2 separate regions of the Homo sapiens genome follow, and region 1 is reported to be linked to region 2. The links are microRNA targets in miRTarBase. Many come from high-throughput screens and were not tested one by one. Region 2 holds a microRNA gene; the other region holds the end of a gene's coding sequence.
The links. Region 2 holds the annotated microRNA hsa-miR-185-5p (UGGAGAGAAAGGCAGUUCCUGA, at 1,929-1,950, shown strand). A microRNA usually pairs through its seed, bases 2 to 8, with sites in the 3' UTR of a target mRNA and lowers its output. Matches are read on the target gene's strand: a 7mer-m8 pairs with bases 2 to 8, a 7mer-A1 pairs with bases 2 to 7 and ends in A, and an 8mer does both.

Region 1 (3,124 bases), not on the chromosome of region 2:
TACATCACTAAACTTTCTTTGAAAGTTACTTATATTGCCCAGAACTAAGTCATTAATTTTATGTAATTCTTATCTTTTTATTTTATGCACCAATTAAGAAATAAAACTAAGTTACATGGAGGATTCCACTTTACATTTATATTTTATAATTTATAAAACTGTCATATCTATATATAATAAGGTTGAGGAAGTGATACTGACATTAAAAAAATAACTTCCTGCTGCTGTGAAGAATAATACCAATCTCAATTTTGAAGTCAAATGCTAGTATTTTTTTTTTCTTTTCTAATCTTGGATCTAATATAGAGGAGGTAGATGAAGAGCAAGCAATGCACTTTTCTTCATGATAATACCATGACATTATTAAGCTTATTCCTTTCCCCTTTGAAAAAAAAATTAGAAAGGAAAATGTTGCAAAGAATATGAACAGCTTACTGTACTTGGTCAATGTAGCATTACAATTTGTTTTTTTTTTAATCCTCCGGGAAACTGGTACCACCTGTTCAACCTGAATTCAAGTAGTTACTGTCAATTTTCTCATGGGTGAATGCTGCCTCTTTGTGGCAGAATGCCATGGAAATTGTTCTTTAAACACAAAGTTCATGAACAGCCCTTGATATTGTACAAATTCCAGGTGAAACTATGGGGAGATCCACCTATAGCAATGAAGCACATAATTGAAACATTTCTTATCCTTAAATTGTGTCTAAACTCACTAGAAAACCTTATTCAAAGATGACGAGCTCATATACACCATTTTGAGCATTTAGAATACTGATCAACTTTAGATAAGGAATCCATCATAACTGTTGAAGGTAGTTTTACACAAATTAAAAATATGAAAACTATGGAAAACTGTAGACTGAATAAATAATACTGATATGACAATTACATTGTATTAAGAGAAAAGTGAATATGCGATATATTACTTACCATGCTCCACGTAGTAGATGAATACTTCAGTAAGGAAAGAGTGTATATAATTGAAACTGCATTAATAAACACATTAAGCGACACATTTAGAAAATCATACTTCCCTGAACCAACAAAGGAATAAATTACTTATATATGTCATGTATGTTATATATATATATACTATATATAGTATATATATACTATATACTATATATATACTATATACTATATATATACTATATATACTATATATATACATATATACTATATATACTATATATATACTATATATATACTATATACTATATATATACTATATACTATATATACTATATACTATATATATACTATATACTTTACAATTTTGCTAATTAGGGGAAACACATTTTGTATTAGGAATAAAGTTTAGGAACTATTTCCTAAATTGTTAATGATGGAGATTCTATCAATCACACATAGTTAAGTCTTTTGCACCTTAAGTAATCATTACTTCCATCCCTCATATTTGACATAGTTATCAAGTGTTTATTCAGAAACTATTTAAAAAATTACATGTGCTGGGATACATATGAGACTGTAACAACAGTAGCCCCATCTTACAGATATCCTGTTTGTCATTATCATCATTGCTTGCTGCCCACAGGGATAAAGACATTGTATAGAGACTTGTACAGTCCATGATTTGGTCTTCTGAGGTGCCAGTACACGTGGATCTGTACAAATGCAACTGGGTTTGGTTAAACAATCGAAAATCGGCTACAATAGTAGTCAAATGAACATGTCATTTTGGTTCATTAATAAAAATACTTTCAAATATTTTCTAATAAAACCCAAAACTTGCAAACAATTCTCTCGGAATGGCCCAATCAATTGCCCTATTTTTTAAAATACATTGGGATACAATCAGCTCTGTTTTCTTAAAAGAAAATGCAGATTCAATTGGGTGGGTTGCATTGGCTTTTAAAGATTTAGCCATTAAATTCTCCACATTTTGAATGATTGAAAATGCCTTCCTGATACCACGTCAGTTTTAGAAATGCAGATCCTAATACAGTGTGACACCTCTGCAAAATCATAGGCTAAATAGTGAAGGAAAGAGGAATGCTAAATGTGCATATAAAAATAGGTGCTACAATAAAATATTTGTATATTTCATCAATAAGTTATTTTGACTAATCAATTATGGATCATATAGCTCTGTAATTTTAATGATTTGTCCACATCTATGGTGATCCTTTACAGGATCACAATACTTTTTTTTTAATTCAAATGTCCAGAATGCATACAAACACATCCTTTAAAAACAAAGAAAAGGAATGAGAAGGGAGGGGAGGGGAGGAGAGAAGGAGAGGGGCGGAAAAAGAGAACAAATTTCCTATTAAAGTTGGGGTGTGCTAATTTCTCCACAAAAGCCAGTTAGACCCACCCATGGCTTAAAAGGGGAGAAAGAGAGGTGGGGCAGGGGCGGGGGAGGGGGAGGAAGCAAAAGAGGAAGAGTAGAATCTATGCTCTGCCATCATCCACCATTCTTAGCACTTCCAACCACTACAAAAATGACTGTGACCTTTCACAGGTCACCCGCGCAGCAAATTGGCCTCCTTAAAGCCCTTCTCCACACCTGCCCCACACGCAAGAAGAGAAAGTGATGTGCCCAGTTTACACAAATGTTTCCCACGTGTAAATTTTAAAGGAAATTGCACACCCTTTTCGTATCTTCCACCGAAGCTGAGAAATCCCGTGCCAAGGCACTTCACCCTAAACGTTGAAACAACACAATTAATCAAATGTGTTCACTGTGTGTGTCTGCTTGCTTGTTTGTTTTAAATGCAAAAGCTCCAAGAGAGTTTCTTTGCTTTTAGAACTGGCTAAACGTGGTCTGTTTTTCCAGCACTTCGAGGTAGTCCGGCTCAACGTTTAGTTTTGCTTTTAACTCCAGATATTCGTTCCGGTTGGGTTCTACAAAGACAGCACTCGGGGGGCTGTAGAGCACCGGTTCCCGTAGCCTGCTGTCCCCTGCCCCCGGGTGCAAATACTGATGGGGGCGTCTCAGGTCATAGTTGGGGGAGAAAGTGTAAGCAGCGGGGCTGCACGGGAATTTGGGATATTCCGGGAGGCTATTGCCGGCGGGGGTGGTGGAGCAGTGTTTGTCTGGTTCTAAAATGCCCCTGTAAAAGCGGTCGGCGTCCTGCACCGGCGACAGCAGGTCCTC
Region 2 (3,124 bases):
GGTATGCAGCTGTAATCTTAGCTACTTGGGAGGCTGAGGTGGGAGGATGGCTTGAGCCCAGGAGTTCGAGGCTGCAGTGAGCTATGATCACACGACTGCACCTGGGCGACAGAGTGGAGGTGATGTGCTTCCTCAAATAGCCATGAGAACAACGCTTCTTTTCTTGTCCTGGCTCAGGAACCTCACCACCATGCCACGTTGCCCTGCTGCGCTGTGCTGGTGTCGTAGGTCGGTGGCAGGACATTTGCCCACCTCACAGGCTCTGCTTTCAGTCTTGAAGTATGGCTCCTCTCGACTGCTGCCCACACGGCCTCCTGTTGTCAGCCTGGGCTACATATCTGGGCTCTTCCATCCCTGTGGGCCTGGTGAGGCCTGGCCATGTGCCTGTGTCATGCCAGTTGCTTTCAAGATGATGTTTCTAGTAGGACCACATGTGAACACAGTGACCACCATGGCCAGGAGGAAGCTGGCTGCCCATCACCAGCTTGCCCAGGGACCTCTTGCACCCTGGCGGGGATCAGCAGATCCTGCTATGAGAGAGCAGAAGGCAGCATGCTGACTTCCAGGAGTGTCCACAGCGTGGCTGGGCAGAGCAGAGCTACAAATGAACAGATCCAGTGCCGAGGCCATCCTGACTCTCTCAGGGGCTGCCAGGCCGTGGGTGCAGGGTCCAGCAGGCCCACTTGATCCCAGCATCCCACGTGTGCCTGCTCGGGGTGGCCAGCTCACTGCTTCTTCACCTCTAGCCCAACCAGCAGGTGCCCCACCATGAGCCCCTCCAGGCTCACCTTGCCCATCCCTGCCATGTGACCTGGGACTCTTGAGATGAGATCACAGCTGCAGAGCACACAGCACAGGGAGGAGCTCATCAGCATCTTCCCACCTGTGGTGCCCTGGCCCAGCCTCCTTCCGGTTGGGGTTGGACCCGCCCTGGCAGCCAGGTTTTGCGTCACCTGCCCCACCCGCCCTGTAACCTACTTGCCCAACTGCTATCCCGGTGGCCGTGAGGCCAGTTGACAGAATGGAGAGGGGTAAGCATTTTCCGCCTGGAGAGGATGGGCGTGTGGCCATCTGACTGCTTCTGCAAGCCTGGTGGTTGTGTGCAGGCTGCCCTGGTGGTCTTAGCCCCTTGGGGCAGGCGGGGTCCTGTGCAGGATGCAGAGACTGGGCGTGGCTTCCTGCAGATGTTCAGATGCTTCTGGGCTGTGGCCTCTGAGACCCAGGGCAAGGCTGCTGACTGGACCCCAGACCCTCCTGCCTGCCTCTTCCTCCAGCTGCTCTTTGTGGTCTGGTTCTGGCCGCCTGGGCCTCAGGGCCAACCCTGCATGGCTTTGACCACTCTGGCCTTCTTGGACTGCCAAGGACATGCTGAGAGTTGGTTGGGCTTGGCCCAAGTGCTGAGCCCAGGGCAGGGGTGGGGACAGGCAGGGCGGAGCCTCACCTGGAAAGCCAGGCACGATTCTCCCTGGGACACCAACCCTCCTGTAGAGTTGGCCAATTCGGGCAACCTTGAGGGCGAGCTCTGTGTGGCACAAGAGATGCCCTGAGGAGCCCAGCCTCACCTGGTGTGATGGGACCTGTGGAAGTTGTGGGAAGTGGTCCTGGCCACCCGTGTGCCCACATGCCCTGCGCCCAGATCAAGATATGGTGACCAAAAGGACAAGGACTATATCCATGGCTCCCTCCCAGAGCCTGGCAAGTCAGCAGGCATGAGAGGGTGTTGGAATGCTGTGGTGGGCCTGTGTGGGGACCTTGTAGGACCTAGGGAACCTGCAGGGCTTGGCTTAGGGAGCACACAGGGGCCCAGGCAAAGGCAAGGTCACAGGTCGGGGGAGGTGAAGCTGGCAGGGGGAGGGGGAGACCTGCTGGCTAGAGCTGGGTTGGGGGCCGGTGGGCAGTGGGCCTGGCTCGAGCAGGGGGCGAGGGATTGGAGAGAAAGGCAGTTCCTGATGGTCCCCTCCCCAGGGGCTGGCTTTCCTCTGGTCCTTCCCTCCCAATGACCGCGTCTTCGTCGAGGCCACAGCCCTTGGCTCTGCGCCCACACCTCCAGTGCCAGGCTGTCCGGAGATCTGTTTATGGCCTTCCCTTGGACCATGGAGCCCTCCCTGCCACTGGTGCCTGGAGGGCTGGTCTGCTGCCCCTGCACCCTGGCCAGCTAGGATGGTGGGGTCCTGCAGCTGAACTGGGGGTGCCTTTCTGCCTGTCTGTCCTACGTGTATCAGTGGCCAGAACTGCCCTCATCCATGGCCTTGCCAGCAGCTGGGCGTGCAGCCCAGGGAGGGCTGAGGTCGGCTGAAGTTGATTGAGACCAACGGCCTTCTCTAACACCCCAGAGGAGCATGTCCCTGGTGAGCAGGCCTTGGGCAGCCCTGGGCTCCAGGCCAGTGGGATTCCAGTAGAGACCAGCTGGCAGGGCTTCTCCAGTGACTGCAGCCAGGGGTTCTCATGTGCAGGAAAGACCAGCTCCTCCAGAGTAAAGGGACTTGTGTCTTCTGGCCACATGGTGAGTGCTGGGCCCACCCCATCAGTGGCACCTTGGGTGCACTCCCAAAGCCCAGCGTGTTCCCCATCTTCCTGCACTGCATTCGGGATGGTTCTGCATCATCAGCTGCACCTGATTGCTCTTAAACCCACAGCTGAGCTTTAATGTGCAGTCACTGAAGCTTTCATTTCTAAAATAGCTTCCTAAGAGTTCTTTTGGCCAGGCATGGTGGCTCATGCCTGTAATCCTAACACTTTGGGAGGCCGAGGTGGGTGGATCACCTGAGGTCAGGAGTTGGAGACCAGCCTGACCAACATGGAGAAACCCCGTCTCCACTAAAAATACAAAATTAGCTGGGCGTGGTGGCGCATGCCTGTAATCCCAGCTACTCGGGAGGCTGAGGCAGGAGAATTGCTTGAACTCGGGGGGCGGAGGTTGCGGTGAGCCGAGATTATGCCAGCCAGCCTGGGCAACAGGAGCAAAAACAAAACAACAACAACAAAAAAAAACCGAGTTCCTTTTGCTGCTTTGTAAACCCAGTTTGCTCTTCATCACTTCCTTTGCCCTGCAGATGTTTCTGAGCTGTCTGTTTTCTTTCTGCCATCAGAGCATGGTTGGTTGATGATGCATGTACGGTTATCT

Region 1: the mRNA of SLITRK5 is a reported target of hsa-miR-185-5p. Seed matches in the 3' UTR shown: 7mer-m8 at 2,253-2,259.

Annotation. Positions count from the first base shown.
Region 1 is chr13:87,677,912-87,681,035 of GRCh38, reverse strand. SLITRK5 (SLIT and NTRK like family member 5) reads right to left here. Exons shown (of 2, transcript NM_001384609.1): 2 at 1,420-3,124. The coding sequence ends at 2,771. LOC112268106 (a long non-coding RNA gene) reads right to left here and starts at 1,096. Exons shown (of 3, transcript XR_002957486.2): 1 at 934-1,096.
Region 2 is chr22:20,031,225-20,034,348 of GRCh38, forward strand. It overlaps MIR185 (microRNA 185), which reads left to right and starts at 1,915; the gene lies at 1,915-1,996. The region is part of intron 1 of TANGO2 (transport and golgi organization 2 homolog); the gene reads left to right. RefSeq lists enhancers at 1-625, 1,060-1,279, 2,963-3,032.